Linked DNA regions of Homo sapiens. The protein of the gene in region 2 purifies or fractionates together with the protein of the main gene of each other region. This does not show direct contact. Each region holds a gene or a part of one and is shown on either strand. Other genes may lie near its edges.

Region 1 (3,659 bases), on a different chromosome or scaffold from region 2:
TTTTAAAGTGTGGCACCTCCCCGCTCCTTCTCTCTTCCTCCTGCTCTGGCCATGTGAAGTTCTTACTTCCCCTTTCCCTTCCCCTTCCACCATGATTGTAAGTTTCCTGAGGCCTTCCCAGAAGCCACTATGCTTCCTGTACAGCCTGCAGAACTGTGAGCCAATTAAATCTCTTTTCTTTATAAATTATACAGTCTCAGATATTTCTTTGCAGCAATGTGAAAATGGACTAATACAGTAATAAATAGGAAGGGATGAATACAAAAAGGGCAATGAGGAAACTCAGTTTCTGGTCTGGGCATTTCCATGAGCTAGTTGTATGATCTTGGGCAACTCAATTATTCTCTAGGCCTAATTTTTTCATTTGGAAAAAAGGGAAGAGATAAGATTAGGTATCTTAAACATTTTTAAAGATTTTTAAGATCCTACTAAGTTTTTTAAAAAGCACTACAGTGCTGGGCGCAGTGGCTCACACCTTTAATTCCAGCACTTTGGGAGGTCGAGGCCGGTGGATCACCTAAGGTCAGGAGTTCGAGACCAGCCTGACCAACATGGTGAAACCCTGTCTCTACTAAAAGTACAAAATTAGCCAGGCATGGTGGCGTGCGCCAGTAATCCCAGCTACTCAGGAAGCTGAGGCAGAAGAATCACCTGAACCCAGGAGGCAGAGGTTGTAGTGCGCTGAGATTGCGCCATTGCACTCTAGCCTGGGCGACAAGAGCAAGACTCCATCTCAAAAAAAGAAAAAAAAAAGCACTACAAATTCTGTATTATTGGTAAAATGTCCATTGTTACAATCCTTTGACCCAGAAAGTCTTCTAAGAATTATCCCACAAATGTACTGGCCCATGTGAGCAAAGATTCATAAATGTGGACAAGTAAGTTCACTGGCATTTATACTAGCAAAAGGCCTACAGAGAAAATAATTAAACGTTCAGTAGAAAGCTAGTTTAAAAAATTATAGCCATCTACAAAATGGAATACTATGAAGTCATCTGAAAGACCGAGGAAATGATATGGAACAACTTCCAAAAGATATGGTTATGTGAACAAAGCATGGCAGAGAATGGTGTGTATAGTGTGTCATTTTAACTTTTAACAAAGGGGACAGTAACACAGACACAAACACATGGATGTGTGTGTGTGTATACACATATATATATACACACACACACACAAAAATATATATATATACACACACAAAAAATTCTTGTTTATGCAAAGAATATTTCTAATTGGATAAACAAGAAACTGGAATTGGATACATAAGAAACTGGTAGTAGCTGTTGCTTCTGGGAGGGCAACGAGCAGTTTAAGGTAGAAGAAAGATTGAACTTTTCATTGTAAACTATTTTCTCACTGTCTGATTTTTACCATGTATAGCTTTTTCATTAAATAAAGAAAAAAAACCCACAAAATTTTTACTTGAAAATACTTATATTCGCTACATTTTCAATTAGTCAAAAAACTTTATTTACCAAATATGTAATATTATCTGAGAAAAGATTGTTTTATGCAAATATTTTTCAAATTACCTTGAAAAGCCTGGGAAACACATCTGCTGGTTGTCCACGAATCACAAACAGACGGGAGTTTAATTTTCGTAGATTGGCATCAAGATCCTCAAGACACTGAAGCAAAAATCTAGAGAGAAGAAAGTATTATTTAAATTATTAAAAAATACATATTTAGAAGACATAAATTATTACAAAGTCATGTTATTCTAAAAGTTGAAATGCCAACCTATCATCTTATTACCTCCTATTGATATATACTTTTTCCAAAAACCATACTAATATATATTTTTTAATTATAGCACAAATTACCTAGTATTTTAATAAAATACTGAATAAAATCACTAATTTTCATTAAATAAAAGTGACTATTAGCAAAAATTTAATTTGTGAACATAAAAACATACAAAGAAGTATCAAAGCAATTAAATTGGTTTCATTGTTTAAACTTGATGAAATATTTTCTGTATGAAAATGGCTTTTCATATAGAAAGGAAAACTTGAAAAATCTAGAATATCTTCTGCTGGGGGGAAAAAACCAGAAACATCCTATGTAATGAATAAGCAAGTGAATAATTTAAGAATATCATGGTAAAAAGGAATCTGAGGGGACAAAAAAAAAAGATTATGAGTACTTTTTTGTAATATTGTAATCATTTAAGAGATTGAAATCATAATGCCCATTTTCAAGTTTCTAATTTATTAAAAAAAGAAACTAATAAGTAGATGCCAAATTATGTGGTTATTAATTCCCTGAGTGTAGAAAATGCCAGATTAACTTCTAAAAAAAAAAAAAAAGAAAAGGTTTCATGGAGTTGGGGTGGAGATTATAGACTTTTTCAATGAAATAAGTAGTAACAAGGCTTACACATGACAGATATCTAGGAAAATTCTGGGGCAGTACCAGAAGACTGCTTACTGTGCATCTTCTGTTGCGAAGAAATGGAACATTCCCAAGAACAAATTTAAAAGAGATGTCACCCATGGAAGGTCCAATCTTATTATTTGACTCATGTTAAGTTTCATTTAGATTCTGTTCTTTTCAGCTGGACGTATCTTATTTCCTATTTTGCTTCTTTTATGTTTTTGATCTCAAGGTTAAGTATTTGTCTGCCTTTTTCACAGGCCACATGGTCTTTCAGAATAGCAATTATCTCTTACTTGTGAAGAGGAGTGATTAAGAAGCAGGGAAATGCAAATTCTAGAAGTGCACTATCTAATATGGTAACCAAAAGGCACATGTAGCCATTTAAATTTAAGTTAGTTAAATTTAAAAATCAGTTCCTTAGTCACACTTGCCACATTTCAAGTCCTCAACAGCCACATGTATAGCTGGTGGCTGGCTACCATACTGAACAGTATAGCTACAGAACATTTCCATCATTGCAGAAAGTTCTACTGGACAGATTGTTCTAAAAAGCTGCTTGGTCTAGATCATTTTGTTCGCTTTACACATTCCGATACCATCATTTCACCAAATAAGTCTTGTTGATTTTTTACAACTGTAGTTATTAGTGACATAAGTGCACTAGTCAGGTCTGACACTTCTTCCTCTTTAGGAGCACCATCTGTACAGCTTGAAGAGTCAAGGTGCTATATTTTTATGAGGATGTTAAAGACATCCCACCATTTCACCTTAGGAAGTCTCATGGGTTTCCAAGTAGGAAGCAAACCTTTCTATCCCCACATTTATATTTTATCACATCCCTTTTCTGCCTTGGTTTGGAGTCACCTCCCTAACACCTGATCCCCATCCTAACCCACCACTACCAATGTACAAATATTTCAGGGGAGAAGACTGTTGTTGTTAGATGGATAGTGATATAAAAGCATTGGAGTTTAATAAAATTATCTCCAACTATGAATAATTTATCATGTCTGGTGACAAATGTTTATTGGGAAGCATCTAATTTTATGTATTTGCTTGGCAAGAAGAGTTACTAGACAGAACAAAGATCGAAGGGTTTTTACACAGATCAAAAATTAAGAAGTTGAAAGAACTAGCAATTTTAAGTTTTCTTAAATTGAAACAGTACAAAACTTAAATGTCCTGGAGGGGGTAATCTAAGGCAATAATAATCCCCTAATCTCTGTTGTACCATTAGTTTCAAAATCTTCCCCACCAGAAGTGAGTAAGAACTGAGA
Region 2 (3,659 bases):
GGCAGATGTAATTTTTAAATGTTTTGATAATGAAATTAGTGGTGCTAATAGATGATACTTGCTATGGGAATGGAGAAAAGTATATAGCTTAAGAGGTATTTATGGGGCAGAAATTGCAGGACTTGGTGACGGCTTGAATGTAGGGAATGAAGGAAAGGAAGGAGCCAAAGATAACTCCATGCTTTGGTCACTGAGTTAATGTTAATGTCATTTACTGATACAGTAGCATAAAGACTGTAAGTTAAAGAAGGAATTTAGATAGAAGAAAATGGGGCATATTGAGTTTGCTGTACTTATGAGAAATCTAATTGGAGAAGTATATCAGTCATTGAGATATAAGCATCTGATGCACAGAGAGATTTGGCCTAGCAGTACAGACTTCAGAGTCATTACCACATAGATTATTTAAATCATGGGAGTGGATGTGATTCACTAGAAAGAAGAGAAACGTTGAGAAGAATAAATTCCCATAACATAATTGTGAGGACCTCTTACATCTTGGTAATGGACAGAGAGTCCCCCACACAGGTGCCTGAGAAGGAGCACACAAAGAGTAGGGGAAAAGCCATTATACTCTGTTGTTATGGAAACCAAGGGAAAAAAATGTTGCCATGAGGGTGTTCGACATTGTCAATTAAAGTCAGAAAAAATATAGTGTGAGAGATGCACATTAGATTTAGCCAAAAAAAAAAAAAATCAATTTTAGCATCTCAGACTACAGTCACACCAAATGTCACATTCAGTTAAATGCATTTACTTCAAGAGTTTTGGAAAATGAATGCATTTTAACTGTGTGGATAGGGTGTTTCTGTTTGCTCCAGAGAAAAAACAGAGTTTTTCTCTTACCTGTCACTGATATTTTTCTAAATTTCAATTTCATTTTTAAAAACTTAGTCTAGCTCAAAGACAGGTAAATTCTAACCTACCCACCACTTGTTTTGGTATATGAAGTTTTATTGGAACACAGCCAAGCCCATTTATTTACAACCACACCCATTTGTTTAGTTATCTGTGGCTGCTCTTGCTCTCTAATAGAAATTGAGTAGTGACAGAAGCAGTACGGCCTGCAAAGCCAAAATTACTTATGATCTAGACCTTAACAGAAAATGTGTGCTACCTCCTGATCTGGAGTCTAGACTTTAGACTAACACACTAACTTAAAAATCTTGATTTGCAGAGTAACTCTTAATTTTACTCATCTGTGTGATTTTTGTGTTCAGACAAAAGGGATGCTTTTGGATTTGATTAGAAAAGTAAAATTCCTAAAGGAAAAAGGTCGCAGAAATACATCACAGAACATGAGCAAATCTCCCTGTGTGGTTGTGTTAACTGACGCAGCAACAAGATCTGGAAAAATGTGCATCCTCCTAGAGATATGAGGCTATACATAGAGTGCAGCTCCTGGAATATTTGTGGCAAAGACAATTAAACATTTTACCTTAGTTTACTGTTGCAATGGTGGCATCGGAAGCAGGACTTATGAAAATTCTGCTTGTCTGCCACTAGGCACTCCATTGGATAAACTGTCTTTTGACAAAGTATACATATTTCCTTGTCTTGGAGCAGCAGCTTCTAAAAATAAAAATTTACAAAGCCTTCTGTAGTGTTATCTTCAATCATATTGTAAAAACATAACAAAACAAAAACACATATTAACTGGCCATGCGGTTAAAGTAGAAAAGCTCTAAGACTACTGTCCTTATGATGTTTCTCTGGACAGAGACTAACCTATCATCAGGTTTAACGGTCTGCTAGGATGGTCTACATTACTCTAGTGCTTCTACCATTTATAGATTGTACGAGTAGACATTTATGATTTAAAAAAACATACATGAGTAAAATATGTTCATTAGACATATAAGTACATTACAAACATATATATGTGCATATATGTGAGTATATTTTTTATATATATATACATATAAAATACTCAGCAATGGGGAGCTCTGAGATAACTTATCATTGTAGGTAATTGAGTTTTCCCTATATATAAAGGCTTGTACCTAAGCTGGTCAAAAGTTTTTACTTCTTAAAGCATTTTAGATAGATCTTTCTAAAATACATATGTTTTTTAAGCCAAGGACACTGTATTTGCTTCAATATTTTCTTGATGACTTAGAGTTGACTGTAAGATACCAACTCTTAATTGTAATGCAATGAGACTCCTGAACACAGTAAAATGCTCAGGGTCATTTGTCCTCAATCTAACTGGCTTTAGATTGTGGAGCTTTTTGGATTCTCGCATCTGCTTATGTAGTTTTCCTACATCTTTTCTTGCTCCTCTAAAGCACCTATGCTCACTTCCTGTGGCTTTCCTGTAAATGTTAGCCTCTATGAATAATAGTGGTTCTATTACTAACCAGTGTTTGTATAGTGGTTTAAAACTAACACAGAACTTTCACTTCAGAATTGCTTTTTGTCCTCACAGCGATCCTGTGAGAATGACTAAGCTTTGGTATTAGTTATTTATAAAAGAAAATATGCTCAGGTTCCATTATACAAATAATTATATCTACTTTAGTGCCTAGATGGTCAATCTGGGCCACTGAGTGAACTCCTTTGCTTATTTGGTTCTAGTAGAGGACACATTTTTATGTTTATCACAAGTTTCTTTGTATGTTCTATGTGTTTTTGAGCTATCTTAACAGAAGCTGAGTATTTGAAATTAATTAGACAGCTTTGCTTAATTATGCCAGAAGCAAGCACATTAAGAACCATATTAACCTGATAAACTAGACACATATGTTGCAAATATGATGGAGGCATAATTATTAGTTTCAGCAGTTTTTATTTTTAAGCTTGCTATTTCTTTCAATCTGTCTAAAAGAATGGACTAAACTAATGATGCACATTAATTATATAAAATTCTTTTATCATGAAGCCTCATTAATTGCAAGAAGTAGGGAAATGAGCTGTTCTTTGATGTTAAAAATCATGTACTAAGTCCATATGATTTAAACCTCCCTCCTTCCAAATAAAATCAAAATTTTTAAATGCATTGTTTACGCTCATTTGTGAATGAGGTTGATTGAGCAGTGATTTAGTTTATTTTTTAGAAAAGCGAAAAAAATCAGTTAGAAAAAAATGTGGCATCAGAGAAAACTAACTCTATCCAACTCAGTAGCAATAGTTGAATATATAAAAGGTCTAATTCCACACCCACACTTTTGTCAGAGATACAGATCAATAAAAATACTAAAGCACACATGAAGAATGTAAATTGTGTCTCAGACTTCTATCAGTCTGTATTGAACTCAATGCAAATATCATTTAAACCTGGCAGTTAAAAATATGTCAATATTAGGCCAAAGGATATTATTTATTATTGTCTAGAATAATTGCATGAAATAAAATTATTGCTATACCTGTTGCTTTATCCAAAGCCTTATTTACCTTGACAAATATGTCCCAGTAATCTGTATAATAGTATTTGTTATTCTCACACAGTGCAAGTAAATCATACTCTATGCTTTTGTGAAAAGAATGTTGTAAAAGCAAGCATATAAAGAGTCTATAAGCATACATGGGAAGCTGTTAGTTTTAGGTTATATTGTTTGGTTGTTTCCACGCACTCTTTTTAACTGTACATCATTTTGGCTATGGAACACATGCCTTTAAATGGTTAATCTTCTTTAACACATTGCAAGCTCATTTACCAC
Region 3 (3,659 bases), about 29 Mb from region 2:
TGTTGTATTTTGGGAACTGTGTCTTATTCCATTCAAGTGTTCTGACTATGAATTACAACTGATAAGGAGCGTAGTGAACAGTGGAAAAACTGTGCTGATTGGGAAGCTCAAAGGGTGTGCTTTTCTAAGTTTTAGAAACAAAATGGAATAGGTGGAGTTTGACCAGCTGGATGTTAGCTCCTTGGTGCTTCACTGACAACACGATAAAGTAATTAATTAGTGTTCTTACGGTCACATTTCCTCACCAACAATTAAGAGTTATGACATCCTTTGACGGTGTGTAAACAGTCCTTCTCCCATCTGACAGATGAGGTAATTAGGAAAAGAAGAGAATGTACCTTGCCCAAGGTCTCAAGGGAGCCTGCATCAGACCTATGATTAGAGTCCAAGTGCTGTTGCCTGTCCTATATTCAGTTGGCAAGCTGAACCATGCCTTCCTTTAATTTGAAATTTAAAATCTAGCCATCTATAAATCAAATTTCACCTCCTCTATATTCTGTGTTGTTTCTCCAATCACTTAGGTCTATTTCAGCTGTGCCTGCGATGACCAATTCCAGTTCTCTTGCATCAAAAACAGATACCAGCCTGGCATCCACCACCTGTGGAATAAAAAGAGTACAAGGCATGGCTTAGGAGCCTGGAGAAATATCAGCTATAATTAAGCCTTAGAAAAGGGGACACATGGAGTTTCAGGAATAATATGTGTGTACCTTGTGTTGGCACTTGAAAACCTGTAAAGCTCCCTACAAATATAAGGCATTCTTTAGTATAAGGTTGATGAGATTTGCCTTGACAGAATTTTTGTTTTATAATTGATTGCTGATTAATCTAGGTCCCGTCCACCTTTAGGAAACTATCTAGTGTTTCTACAGAAAAAGTCACATACAATACATGCCAACTCATTCTGATCTCAGATATAATTATTTCACATAGCAAGCATGAGATTTGATTACCCATATCTAAGCATAAGATGCATGGCTTAAATGTTACTAGTGGTCATTAAATCAACAAATGCTACTTGAATGCAGTCCATAACATTTATTTCAGTGATCTCTCGTAACAGTGAGTTAAGCTTCTTTTGGTGCTCTTGAAACATAAGGGAAAAAATACTGAACTTTTCGCATGGAAAGAGCAACAGTAAATACAGCAGAAATAGTCTACACATGTAAAGTACAATAAGATGGACTGTGGCATCATTGATATCAGACTGCAAACTCCTCCTACTGCTGATTGTCTTTACCTCATAGAAGCCACGCACTAAGCTCTCTGTTTGCTGTACAACACCCCTCTCAATCCTCCACTTCACCATCCTCTCGATGTACTCCTTCTTGTTCTTCTCTGTAACTGGGATATTGGCACCCCCTGGCTTTAATTCTCGTTCAGTTATCTGAGATTACAAAATAAAAAGAATGACTACAAAGCAATACTCTTAATGTTATAACAACATTACTAGCATTGAGCTGAAATCAGCCAGCTACCTGTCCCAGCCCTGCCCTAGGCACATCCCACAAGCTGGCAGTGAGGCCCCAGGCACTCACGGAGCACACACACTCAGGAAAAAATAGGCATTGAGGGGGTGCTTGAAAGCTTTGGTGATTAAAGTATATATATGTATTGCTGTTACTACAGGTTAAGTTTTAAAATGCCGATGAATCGGCTTCAGATACTAGCCTGCTACTATTTGAATGTTTGACAAAACCCATTTTCACAAATTTCTCAGAATTGACTATATCTAGCGTAAAGATTTACTTTAAAGCAGAATTACACTCAAGTGAATGTTAAATTGAGAACTTTTTCAAAACACATGGAATGCAGAAAAGCAGCTAAAGATTAATGCCTAAATAAGAATATTAATTATAAACTGGTATATAATTTCTGGAAGAAACGTTTTCCCTACTCTTCCACCAATTTTGAAAAAAAAATTAATATATTCTGTTCTTAAGTCTTCCCCAAAACATTGTTTATGTTCCCTTAGCTTCAAAAAAATCAATTTTGGTTCTCTTTATTTTTCTTTTCTTTTTTGAGACAGGGTCTCACTCTCGTCCCCCAGGCTAGAGTGCAGTGGCATGATCCAGGCTCACTGCAGCCTCAACCTCTCCAGCTCAGGTGACCCTCCCACCTTGGCCTCCTGAGTAGCTGGGACTACAGGTATGTGCCACCACACCTGGCTAATTTTTGTATTTTTTGTAGAGATAGGGTTTCACCATGTTGCCTAGGCTGGTCCTGAACTTCTAGGCTCAACTGATCCTCCTGCCTTGGCCTCCCAAAGTGCTGGGATTACAGGCATGAGCCACCGTGCCCAGCCACCATTCTATAAATGCCAATTAAAAAATTCTGTAGTGTGGACTTTAAAAAACTGCATTCTATATAAGGTAAATTCTCATATTTTGGGGGATATTTTAGTTGGAAATAAAAAGAAGATTGCTTACAACATAAACAGTTATCACCATCTGTAATTTACAGCATCTTAATCTGCAGCTGACATTAATTCTAATCTTTATAACTGCGGTTATTATAACTGTGTGTGATCCTGAGTTTAAATCACCCAATAAACCACGAATAAATAAGCATCTGATCTTAGCCATGGAGTTAATTCTTCACTCATCAATAGCCTTCAGTTACCACACTTAGGCGCCAGGTGTGCAGATACACACACCTGCCCAAATACTTCTTCGTTCACAGTGAACGTGAGGTCTAGGATGTCATGGATATCATTGTCTTTCATCCACTGCAGGCTCTGATGGAACTCTTCATCAAGGTATTCTAGGTCACTCAGGTCACATAGACTAAGATGACAAACAGACAGAAACAAATATGTAGGCATGGCTATTAGCAAAAACCCAGAGTCATAAGGAAAGAAACTAAGAATTAAAGAGAAGAATAAGAGCCACTACATAGGCAGTGATTTCTGGAATGTTCTTAGTCCAAGTCCAGTAATTAAACCAAACCAGTGAAATAATTCAGAAATTTGTTATAAAATTAGAAAGTCCTAAATATATAATATGCCACAGGAATCATTCAGCCTGCGTCTTCCTTTATAGACACAGAACTGGAGGTGCAAAGAATGAGTGCCATCTGCGCAGTCATCCATCATCAATGCCAGATCAGGAACTGGCACTCGGGTTGACAACTTGGATCCATTATTCTTTCTGGCCATATTATACTACCTTAAAATACTGTTATCTTAATTTGAAATTATTTATATATTTCTATATTTTAACTTTTTTTAATTGAAAGACATGATTTTTATTTTAATATTTATTTTATTTTATTTTTTATTAAAGACATGATTCATCTTCACATACATTCCCTTTTTCTTCATGGTTCTTATTCTGAAAATAGTAAGCCACAGAACCTGCCGTCAATCTGTATTTTTCCCCCACTTTTTTTAATTGTAGAGAAAGAATCGACATGAGGTAAGTTACTGTTCCATGGCCCAGTTGTACAGTGGTAGTCATTGATTTGCTATAGCTGTTTTGAAATTTCACTCCCCTTAACCCAATTTTAAGGGTCATTTTTTTTCAGTTCAATCTGAACATTCATTAGGCATCAAGCATGTACCAGACATCTGAATAGCTACTTGATGAATAGTCACTACCCCCAGGAGCTAATGGGCTAGTTGGGGAGCCAAGTACACAAACAGATAAGTTAATATAAAG

Evidence for each region.
Region 1: the proteins of XIRP2 (region 2) and CRY1 purify together in Homo sapiens (co-immunoprecipitation; one large-scale study listed by IntAct). This does not show direct contact.
Region 3: the proteins of XIRP2 (region 2) and HECW2 purify together in Homo sapiens (affinity purification with mass spectrometry; one large-scale study listed by BioGRID and IntAct). This does not show direct contact.

What each region holds. Positions count from the first base shown.
Region 1 is NC_000012.12:107,020,549-107,024,207, forward strand, and holds part of CRY1 (cryptochrome-1), read right to left. Parts: intron 1,645-3,659; coding exon 1,536-1,644; intron 1-1,535.
Region 2 is NC_000002.12:167,251,945-167,255,603, reverse strand, and holds part of XIRP2 (xin actin-binding repeat-containing protein 2), read right to left. Parts: coding exon 3,657-3,659; intron 1,573-3,656; coding exon 1,478-1,572; coding exon of another isoform or gene 1,439-1,477; intron 1-1,438.
Region 3 is NC_000002.12:196,219,555-196,223,213, forward strand, and holds part of HECW2 (E3 ubiquitin-protein ligase HECW2), read right to left. Parts: intron 2,787-3,659; coding exon 2,657-2,786; intron 1,388-2,656; coding exon 1,241-1,387; intron 600-1,240; coding exon 485-599; intron 1-484. UniProt on the Homo sapiens protein: E3 ubiquitin-protein ligase that mediates ubiquitination of TP73. Acts to stabilize TP73 and enhance activation of transcription by TP73. Involved in the regulation of mitotic metaphase/anaphase transition.